Linked DNA regions of Homo sapiens. The protein of the gene in region 3 purifies or fractionates together with the protein of the main gene of each other region. This does not show direct contact. Each region holds a gene or a part of one and is shown on either strand. Other genes may lie near its edges. The genes, in order: ACO2, ALDH7A1 and SLC25A16.

The links.
Region 1: the proteins of SLC25A16 (region 3) and ACO2 purify together in Homo sapiens (affinity purification with mass spectrometry; one large-scale study listed by BioGRID and IntAct). This does not show direct contact.
Region 2: the proteins of SLC25A16 (region 3) and ALDH7A1 purify together in Homo sapiens (affinity purification with mass spectrometry; one large-scale study listed by BioGRID and IntAct). This does not show direct contact.

What each region holds. Positions count from the first base shown.
Region 1 is NC_000022.11:41,475,575-41,479,302, reverse strand, and holds part of ACO2 (aconitate hydratase, mitochondrial precursor), read right to left. Parts: intron 1-3,728. UniProt on the Homo sapiens protein: Catalyzes the isomerization of citrate to isocitrate via cis-aconitate.
Region 2 is NC_000005.10:126,550,220-126,553,947, forward strand, and holds part of ALDH7A1 (alpha-aminoadipic semialdehyde dehydrogenase isoform 1 precursor), read right to left. Parts: intron 3,180-3,728; exon of another isoform or gene 3,083-3,179; intron 1,919-3,082; coding exon 1,802-1,918; intron 75-1,801; coding exon 1-74.
Region 3 is NC_000010.11:68,486,024-68,489,523, forward strand, and holds part of SLC25A16 (solute carrier family 25 member 16), read right to left. Parts: intron 2,607-3,500; coding exon 2,444-2,606; intron 1,190-2,443; coding exon 1,121-1,189; coding exon of another isoform or gene 1,117-1,120; exon of another isoform or gene 1,051-1,116; intron 1-1,050. UniProt on the Homo sapiens protein: May be involved in the transport of coenzyme A in the mitochondrial matrix. Very little is known about the physiological function of this carrier.

The DNA.
Region 1 (3,728 bases), on a different chromosome or scaffold from region 3:
ACAGATGGTGGGTAATGCGTTTCTCCGCTCCTCCAGGCCTGGATGGGCATCTGTCATTGTCTGTGGGCGGACCAAACACACCACCACTACATCCATGTTCCAGGACGGGTGGCTGAGGCTGTACTTAGTCCCACCCAGCAAATTCCCCCACCTACTCCTTGCTTCAGTACCGTGTATTATAGCTATTTAGATGACTTCTCCCTCACCACCCTAAAAGCTCTTCCACAGACAGGGCCCTTGTCTTAGAGCTCTGTGAACACACTCATGACACAGTGAGTGCTTATAAATACCACAACCACAGATGCCCTGCAGAAGGTCAAGGAGCCCGGCTACAAGGAACTAAAGAAGTGTGGCATACAAGAAAATTAACCAGGTGTGGTGGCGCATGCCTCTGGTCCCAGCTACTTGGGAGGCTGAGGCAGGAGAATTGCTTGAGCCCCAGAGGCAAAGGTTGCAGTGAGCAGAGATCGTGTCACTCACTGCACTCCAGCTTGGGCTACAGAGTGAGACTCCTTCTCAAAAAAAAAAAAAAAAAAAAGAAGATATGTGGCAGGGACAGGGCGGGGGTTTTAAAGGAACTCTAGATACCTCTTTGGTAAGTCCCACAAATGCCCACAGAATTAAAGCTCCCAATCAGAAACCATCTCAATCTCTCCAGGGGGAAAGCAGAAATACTCACCAGGCCTCAATTCACCAAGGGCCTAGACTTGAATATTTCATGATAAAAATAAATACTGCAAATATAACTCTAAAGCTCACTTCCCCAATGTTGTCCTTAGAGAATTAAAAAACTAAACCAAAAGATTCATTTCTACCTCTTCCCCCAACTCTTTTAAAACAGTATTGAAAGGGTTTTCTTGGCCAGGCGCAGTGGCTCACGCCTGTAATCTCAATATTTTGGGAAGCTGGGGCAGCTGGACCACTTGAGGTCAGGAGTTGGAGACCAGCTTTGCCAACAGGGTGAGACCCTGTCTCTACTAAAACAAAAAATACAAAAATTAGCTGGGCATGGTGGTGCGTGCCTGTGATCCCAGCTACTTGGGAGGCTGGGGCAAAAGAACTGCTTGAACCCAGGAGGTGGAGGTTGCAGTGAGATCATGCCACTGCATCCAGACTGAGCAACAGAGCGAGACTCTATCTTGAAAAAAAGGTTTCCTTGAACAACTACCACTTACCTGCTATCTGGGGAGATGATGGGAGGAACAAGCAATTTTCACAACTGGTTTGGTTTTTTTTTTGAGACAGAGTCTCGCTCTGTTGCCCAGGCTGGAGTGCAGCAGCGTGATCTCGGCTCACTGCATCCTCTGCTTCCTGAGTTCAAGCGATTCTTCTGCCTCAGCCTCCCAAGTAGCTGGGACTACAGGCGCACACCACCATGCCCGGCTCATATCTGTATTTTTAGTAGAGACGGGGTTTCACTACATTGGCCACACTGTTCTCAAACTCCTGACCTCGTGATCCACCCATCTCGGCCTCCCAAAGTGCTGGGATTACAGGCGTGAGCCACTGTGCCCGGCCACAACTGGTCTTTTTTAAACGTATGAGCTAAGGATAAAGGCTGGGGTGATGGATGCCGCGGGCCATCTGCAGGGGCTGGAGACAGAAATGAATATTCACCAAGTGCCTCTACCCTGCACTGGATTTGCCCCAAGTACTTTATCCACACAATCCCACGACTACCCTGTGAGGCAGAAGGCATTGTGCCCATTTAATGGATGAGGAAACTGAAGCTCTGGAATGCTAACTGTTTTGCCCAGGGTCACGCAGCAAGGTGGAATTCCAGGCCTGGCTCCAAAGCTGGTGCCCCTTCCTCTGGCCCAGGTGCTGCAGAATAAAACTAAAGAGGTCGGGTGCGGTGGCTCACGCCTGTAATCCCAGCACTTTGGGAGGCCGAGGCAGGTGGATCACAAGGTCAGGAGATTGAGACCATCCTGGCTAACACCGTGAAACCCCATCTCTACTAAAAAAAAAAATACAAAAAATTAGCTGGGCGTGGTGGCGGGTGCCTGTAGTCCCAGCTACGCAGGAGGCTGAGGCAGGAGAATGGCGTGAACCCGGGAGGCGGAGCTTGAACTGAGTGGAGATCGCGCCACTGCACTCCAGCCTGGGAGACAGAGCCAGACTCCGTCTCAAAAAAATAAATAAATAAATAAATAAATAAATAAATAAATAATATGGAAACCATTCTCCCTACCTTTAATTTACTTGGGAGGCTGAGGCAGGAGACTCGCTTGAACCTGATTCTCCTGCCTCAGTCTCCCAAGTAAATGGGATTACAGGTACACGCCACCATGCCCAGTTAATTTTTTGTATTTTAGTAGAGACAGAGTTTCACCATGTTGGCCAGGCTGGTCTTGAACTCCTGACCCCAAGTGATCCACCCACCTCGGCCTCCCAAAGTCCTGGGATTACAGCCGTGAGCTACCATGCCTGGCCCATTCTCCCTACCTTTCAAGACTTCCAAAATGAAGATATTCTACAAGGGGAAAATCTGTCCCTACTCTCAATCTTAGAAATGGCCTATTCCTAAAATAATATCAGAAACTATTTGCAGTGTGTGTGTTTTTTTGTTTTTTTGTTTTGTTTTGTTTTTGAGACAGAGTCTCGCTCTGTTGCCCAAGCTGGAGTACAGTGGCGCAATCTCGGCTCATTGCAAGCTCTGCCTCCCAGGTTCAAGCGATTCTCGTACCTCAGCCTCCCGAGTAGCTGGGTCTACAGGCGACCACCCACACACCCAGCTAATTTTTTTCTATTTTTAGTAGAGATGGAGTTTCACCATGTTGGTCAGGCTGGTCTCAAACTCCTGACCTCAGGTGATCTGCCTGCCTTGGCCTCCCAAAATGCTGGGATTACAGGTGTGAGCCACTGCGTCTGGCCTTTTTTTTTTTTTTTTTTAAGACAGAGTTTCATTCTTGTTGCCCAGGCTGGAGTGCAATGGCACAATCTTAACTCAGTACAACCTCCGCCTCCCAGGTTCAAACGATTCTCCTGTCTTAGCCCACAAAGTAACTGAGATTACAGGCATGCGCCACCACACCTGACTAATTTTGTATTTTAAGTACAGACGGGGTTTCACCATGTTGGTCAGGCTGGTCTTGAGCTCCTGACCTCAGGTGATCCACCTGCCTTGGGCTCCCAAAGTGCTGGGATTACAGGCATGAGGCACCACACCCGGCTCACAATGCTTTATAACACATCAAACAGAGTCAAAACAACTTTTCAAATATTAGGCCTTCAGAACCCTTCTTAACTGAAGGGTAGTTATTAATTACACTGTTTTGCAGATGTGTAACTAACTGCAGGACCACAGAGAGTTGAGACTTTGCCCGAAGCTACCCAGTAAGCCAGTGGCAGAAGTCTCCTAAGGCTCCTGAGGGTCCATCTGCTGCTTTTTTTTTTTTTTTTGAGACAGAGTTTCACCCTGTTGCCCAGGCTGGAGTGCAGTGGCGCGATCTCGGCTCACTGCAACCTCCACCTCCTGGGTTCAGCTGATTCTCCTGCCTCAGCCTCCTGAGTAGCTGGGATCACAGGCATGCGCCACCACGACTGGCTAATTTTTTTTTTGTATTTTTAGTAAAGATGGGGTTTCACCATATTGGCCAGGCTGGTCTCGAACTCCTGAGCTTGTGATCCACCCACCTCAGCCTCCCAAAGTGCTGGGATTACAGGCGTGAGCCACCACGTCCGGCCCATTTGCTGCTTTTTAAAGGCTACAAGAAGTCTCTCTA
Region 2 (3,728 bases), on a different chromosome or scaffold from region 3:
AGATCTTTGGTAAAGATGCTACTTGAAAGTCCCTGTTTTACTTCATTATTCCATGCAAAGACCTCTTCTTCATTCTAAAAGGAGAGACATTGGAAGCTGTAAGATGTTATAGTGTTCAAGTCAAAGTTCACTGACATTAAACTCATTTCCTGAAGTGTACCAGTATAATTTCAGTGTACAAAAGGAAACCAAAGAGTCAAGTTTACTCACTCTGTTTCTCTTATAATTCAGATCATTGATAATAAGTAAAAAATTTTGGGATTTTTCCCCTAATTATCAGAAACAAATATTAACACATTCTTCCTTTCATTCAAGCTACTACATATAATAGCTAATATCTATTGAGCTCTTACGTGTGTAACACACCAATCTAAGCACTTAACATGCATTTAGTTATTTAATCCTCATCCTATAACACAGGTTTCCTACTACCTCCCAATTTACAGATTGGGCAACTGAGGCCTACAGAGACTAATTTGCTCAAGAGCTCACACAGCCTCATAATGTACACAAACACATTACAAAACACAAAATTATATTCTCTAGTCCCCATACGTGAAACAATGATAGGCAATTTAAAGCAAGAAATAAAGAAGCAATGATGTAATTGCAACAAGATGCAATTCTCACTATTATTTTACTGTTAATAATGGTACATTCAAATATTGATTCAATCTCTGCAGTCTCAAAATTAATCCTAAATATTTACTGGCGAGGCTAGGGCCCGTCTCAAGCTAGGGAATGAGATCTTCTAATTTATCCACCTGTGTGGGTTTTTTGGGTTTTATTTATTTGTTTGTTTTAGAGACAGGATCTCTTCCCACCTCAGCCTCCCGAGTAGCTAGGACTATAGGTACATACAACACCTGGCTAATTTTTTAATTTTTTTGTACAGACAAGGTCTCACTGTGTTGGTCAGGCTGGTCTTGAGCACCTGGCCTCAAGTGATCCTCCCAAAGCACTGAGATTACAAGCATGAGCCATTGTGCCCAGCTTCTTCACCTATTAAAACCTTTACAGTTTGAGATCAAGATATGAGATCAGGGAAAACAAAACAAAACTCCGCAGCCTGTCCTCTGCTGGAGTTTATAACTATAGGTCTTTTTTTTTTTTGAGATGGAGTCTCACTCTGTTGCCCAGGCTGGAGTGCAATGGTGCGATCTCGGCTCACTGCAACCTCAGCCTCCTGGGTTCAAGTGATTCTCCTGCCTCAGCCTCTCAGGTAGCTGGTATTACAGATTACAGGCGCCCAACACCACGCCTGGCTAATTTTTTTGTTTTTTAGTAGAGACGGGGTTTCACCATGTTGGCCAGGCTGGTCTCGAACTCCTGACCTCAGGTGATCTGCCTGCCTCACCCTCCCAAAGTGCTGGGATTACAGGTGTGAGCCACCGTGCCTGGCCAACTATAGGTCTTTGTATTACCCCCACATGTTCTCATTTTGTCTGCTGACATGTTCACAGCACTCAGGCTATCAAACTATCCAGTACCACGGTTCAGGAGAAGGTGACTCTATGGCCTACACAGCCCAGGATTAAGATGACACAGGAAATGAGGACCACACACTTCATAAACTCCAACACTGGTCCACTACCCAATCTGGTTTCCCTGGCAGCTAGCTTGGCATGCTATAGAGTTTTAAAGTGTTTATCTCATATTTTATCCTGAACCTTCATATATCTACTATTCAGATTACTTTCTAAAACCCTCTTAAAGGTTCATCCAGTGAAATTTAATCCACCATCATTTTCCTCTTATCATTTATTTCAACATCAGGCTAGCGAACAGAATGCATTTTTACCTTGAATTTAAAGACATAGAGAATCGGAGCAAAAGTCTCTGTGTGTGCAATGGACGCATCGTGGCCAAGACCTGTCACAATTGTCGGTTCTACATAATTTCCAGGGCGATCCATAACCTAATGCAGAGAAATGAAATAAAAAGAATGAAAGCATTTTGTTTTCTAGGACTTGGGGTCAGAGGATGCAATCTTTGCCTACATTTATAAAGAAAAAAATTAGCATCATTTATAGGTGAATTATTTCTCCAAAATAACTTCCAATCATGAAAGAAAATTCTCTCTTCCTGATATTGGTTCTAACTTAGTTGGTCAGAGAAAAATGGAAATAAGGAGTCAGGCAGGGATAGAGAGCCATGCCATGTGACACAACCAAGTTATGTTGAACAAACACTGCTGCAAGCGGTTATTTTCACTCAGCCTGTAGTGCAATGGCTTGATCTCAGCTCACTGCAACCTCCGTCTCCCGGGTTCAAGCCATCCTCCCACCTCAGCCTCCCAAGTAACTGGGACTACAGGCATGCACCACCATGCCCAGCTAAATTTTTTTTGTATTTTTAGTAGAGACCAGGTTTCACCATTTTGGCCAGGCTGGTCTTGAACTTCTGACCTCAAGTGATCCACCTGCCTCAGCCTCCCAGAGTGCTGGGATTACAGGTGTGAGTCAACATGCCCGGCCACAAACAAATCTTTATATGTGGGGGGTTTTTTGTTTTTGATTTTTTTTTTTTATTATTTGGTTTTTTGTTTTTGATTTGGTCTTGCTTTGTTGTCCAAGCTGCAGTGCAGTGACATCATCATGACTCATTGCAGCCTCGAACTTGTGGGCTCAAGCAATCCTCCCACCTCAGCCTCCCAAGTAGCTAGCACTACATGTGCATGCCACCATACTCAGCTAATTTTTTTTTGAGACAGGGTCTCACTATGTTGTCCAGGTGGGTCTTGAATTCCTGGCCTCAAGCAATCCTCCCACCACAGCCTCCCAAAGTGCTGAGATTGCAGGTGTGAGCCACTGCACCTGGCAATATGTGTTAATTTCTTTTTTAATGCTTATGATATGTATTTTTTTATTCCTTGCCTTAACTGACTTTTTAAAATAACCAATAAATAGATTATAATTGCTCTGAATACAAAGTCTCCTACTGTACTTGAAAAGGAATTTTCCTTTCCATACAAATATTAAGGACCCAATTCAAAAGCAACCATGACTCCGTTTCTTCTATGTCCTTCCAGAAATGTCCCATGCATTTTCTGCTGTCTTTTTTTAAAATATGGAATACTTTTTAAAATACGGATATGAATTTGCATATCATCATTGTGCATAAGCCATGCTAATCTTCTCTGTATCTTTCCAATTTTAGTATATGTGCTGCCAAAGCAAGCATTGTTGTCATTCTTTAAAACGTGTATTTCTGGCTGGGCACGGTGGCTCACGCCTGTAATCCCAGCACTTTGGGAGGCCAAGGACAGTGGATCACGAAGTCAGAAGTTCCAGACCAGCCTGGCCAACATGGTGAAACCCCTTCTCTACTAAAAATACAAAAATTAGCTGGGCATGGTAATGGGTGCCTGTAATCCCAGCTACTCGGGAGGCTGAGACAGGAGAATCGCTTGAACCTGGGAGGCGAGGTTGCAGTGAGCTGAGATCACGCCACTGCACTCCAGCCTGGGCAACAGAGCAAGACGCAGGAGCCTGAGGTGGGAGGATTGCTTTAGTCCAGGAGGAAGAGGGTGCAGTGAGCTGAGATCGTGCACCACTGCACTCCAGCCTAGGTGGCAGAGCAAGACCCTGTCACAAAAACAAACAGAGCCAAGTGTGGTGGTTCATGCCTGTAATCCCAACACCTTAGGAGGCCAGGGTGGGTGGATCACTTGAGGCCAGGAGTTAGAGACCAGCCTGGCTAACATGGGAAACCCCATCTCTACCAAA
Region 3 (3,500 bases):
CCTTGCCAACGTGGTGAAACCCCGTCTCTCCTAAAAATACAAAAATTAGCCAGGCGTGGTGGCAGGTACCTGTAATCCCAGGTACTCGGGAGGCTGAGGCAGGAGAATCGCTTGAACCCGGAAGGGGGAGGTTGCAGTGAGCTGAGTTCATGCCATTGCACTCCAGCCTGGGGGACAAGAGTGAGACTTTGTCTCAAAAAAACAAAACAAAAAAAAAAAAAAAACACAACCTCTAAAATAATATTTTTTTTTATAGAGACAAGGTCTCACTGTGTTGCCTGGGCTGGTCTTGGACTCCTGAGCTCAAGTGATCCTCCCACCTTGGCCCCCCAAATTGCTCGGATTACAGGCATGAGCTACCACAACTAGCCTAAATTTAATATTTTCTTTGTTTTTTTTAGTTTGTTTTTGTTTTTTTTATTGAGATGGAGTCTCACTCTGTCGCCAAATTGGCTCACTGCAACCTCCACCTCCCTAGTAGATGGGATTACAGGCGCCCGACACCACATCTGGCTAATTTTTGTATTTTTAGTACAGATGGGGTTTCATCATGTTGGCCAGGCTGGTCTCAAACTCCTGACCTCAGGTGATACGCCCTCCTCGGATTCCCAAAGTGCTAGGATTACAGGCACGAGCTATCGTGCCTGGCCCTAAATTAAATTTTTAACAGGAGGATTAGAACCTGATTATAGACCAGGCAGGCAGGCAGATCACTTGAGGTCAGGAGTTCAAGACTAGCCTGGCCAACATGGTGAAACCTTATTTCTACTAAAAATACAAAAAATTAGCCAGTCATGGTGGTGGGTGTCTGTAATCCCAGCTGCTTGGAAGACCGAGGCAAAAGAATCACTTGAACCCAGGAGGCGGAGGTTACAGTTAGCCAAGACCATGCCACTGCACTCCAGCCCGGGTGACAGAGTAAGACTGCATCTCAAAAAAAAAAAAAAAAAAAAAAAAAAGAACCTGATTGCCTGATTGTAATCTTATAAAGTTACCAAAATAAACTTCGGGAGATAAAACGGAAGATACAGACTATTGGTCAAACTAGAGTCCTATCTCCTTACTGAGTTTAATGTTACATTTCCTAAAGAAAATGAACAATGACATATGATGAACTTACAGGCACTTTTCAAATTCCGGCAGAACAGTTCCTAATTGCATTCGCCGACGAGTCACATCAAATGGGTAGCTAAAAGAAGAAAAAGGCATAAAGAATTAAAAATTTTTGGTTTTCTACTCAACAACTATTGAATACAAAGCCCTATAAATTCAAAGAAATAACGTGTTACTGCTCTTATTGTTCTGTCTAACCTAGGAGTCGGGATATAGGCATATGAATAAAATCAATTAACAATACAGAAGTCTTTGCTTATGTGATCCCTCTGATTAGAGGATTCTTCTCTCCCATCACCGTAATATCAAGTTCTGTTCATTCCTAAAGGTCAAATTAAATGCCAGTTCCTGAAGAAACAAACTGGTTGCTTTTCATTGTTGAACACTAATATACAGTTTCCAACACTGGCACTACTGACATTTTCGGTTGGATCATCCTTTGTTGTGGGGAACTGTCCTGTGCACTAGAGATGTTTAAGCACATCCCTGACCTCTTCCCACTAGATGCCAGTAGCACTCTCCCAGCTGTGACAACCAAAAATGTCTCCAGACATTAACAAATGTCCACTGGTGGTAAAATCAACCCCAGTAGAGAACTGCTCTAATGCTATGCAGCAAGTCCCCTTGAATACAGTAGACCAATACAAAATTTTCCATAAGGGCTAAAACTAATAATACAGATAACTGCCTGAAATTAAATACACAATATACAAATGCAATCTCTCTTTTTTTTTTGAGATGGAGTCTCACTCTGTCGCCCAGGCTGGAGTGCAGTGACGCAATCTTGGCTCACTGCAACCTCCACCTCCCAGGTTCAAGCAATTCTCTGCCTCAACCTCCCGAGTAGCTGGGATTACAGGTGGCTGCCACCACACCCGGCTAATTTTTGTGTTTTTAGTAAAGACGGGTTTTCACCATGTTGGCCAGATGGTCTCAATCTCTTGACCTTGTGATCCACCCGCCTAAGCCTCCCAAACTGCTGGGATTACAGACGTGAGTCACCGCGCCCACCCTCTTTCTTTTTTTCTTAGGGGCAAGGTCTCACTATGTCTCCCAGACTGGCCTCAAACTCCTGGGCTCAAGCAATCCTCCTGCCACAGTCTCCCAAGTAGCTGGGACAATAGGCAGCACTACTGCATCCAAACATGTAATTATTTATAATATGCTTAAAGTGCACACACATCTGAAAAAATGTATTAAATTGAGACCTATATTTTGCAAGGATCCTCTTTTTGAATAATCTATTAGAAAAAATAAATGATTAAACAATGCTGAAAATCAGGACTGGGTAACTATAATTTGATTAAATTAAGTTAGTGAAGAAACTTACGATATTGTCTGCGCTATTGCTCCAGCAACACCACCACAAAGTAAGTTTACATGAGTTTTCAAAACTAAGACATTAGGATTGTCTGATGAAGGTCTGCCAAGAAGGGTAGGAGCATGGGAAAGCCCAACACTCTTCAAGGTACCAAAAGTAAAAAATGAAACACCTGAAAAACAAAAAATAAATTCACCATGATGCTTAACATAACATGAGCTGTGAAAAAGACACCATTCTTAAATAATAAACACATTTCCTAATTTCTGGTGTTTGGCTTAATTTAAAATAGAAAGATTTGTGTACATAAATAACCTAAAGATGACAAAATTACCACCAATAAAAAATTATAGCTTTGGTTTTCATGCACCACTGAAGTTTACTGCACTGAAGGAGGCTATAGTGAATATAATGCCACTTTATATGTGGAAAAAAAACAAAGTTTTCCAAGGTTTCACATGAGAAAAATTAAATTCATGATTATTAATTACAAGGAAATGTGACAACTTAACATTTAAAATAACAATGATGGCCGGGCGTGGTGGCTCACACCTGTAATCCCAACAATTTGGGAGGCTGAGGTGGGCGGATTACCTGAGGTCAGGCGTTCGAGATCAGCCTGACAAACATAGAGAAATCCCATCTCTACTAAAAATACAAAATTAGTCGGGTGTGGTGGCGCATGCCTGTAATCCCAGCTACTCGGGAGGCTGAGGCAGGAGAATCATTTGAACCCAGGAGGCGGAGTTTGCGGTGAGCTGAGATCACGCCATTGCACTCCAGCCTGGGCAACAAGAGCGAAACTCTGTCTCAAACACAAAACAAAACAAAACAAAAAAACAGTGATGGTGATAATGTAAGATACAGGCAAAAATTAAGAAGTGAAAAAGCATTTTTATTTTAACTAAGTGTCTAAGTTTGTCTTCAAGGAAGAATTGTGACCATGAGAGAAGCGTTTATGTTAATTCACAAAACACGTAGAATCTGATAAAAATAGTATGCAGGTAGTGCTTGTTAAACATTACATGATACTAGAACCATTAAGGTTGTTTATTAATAAAATTAA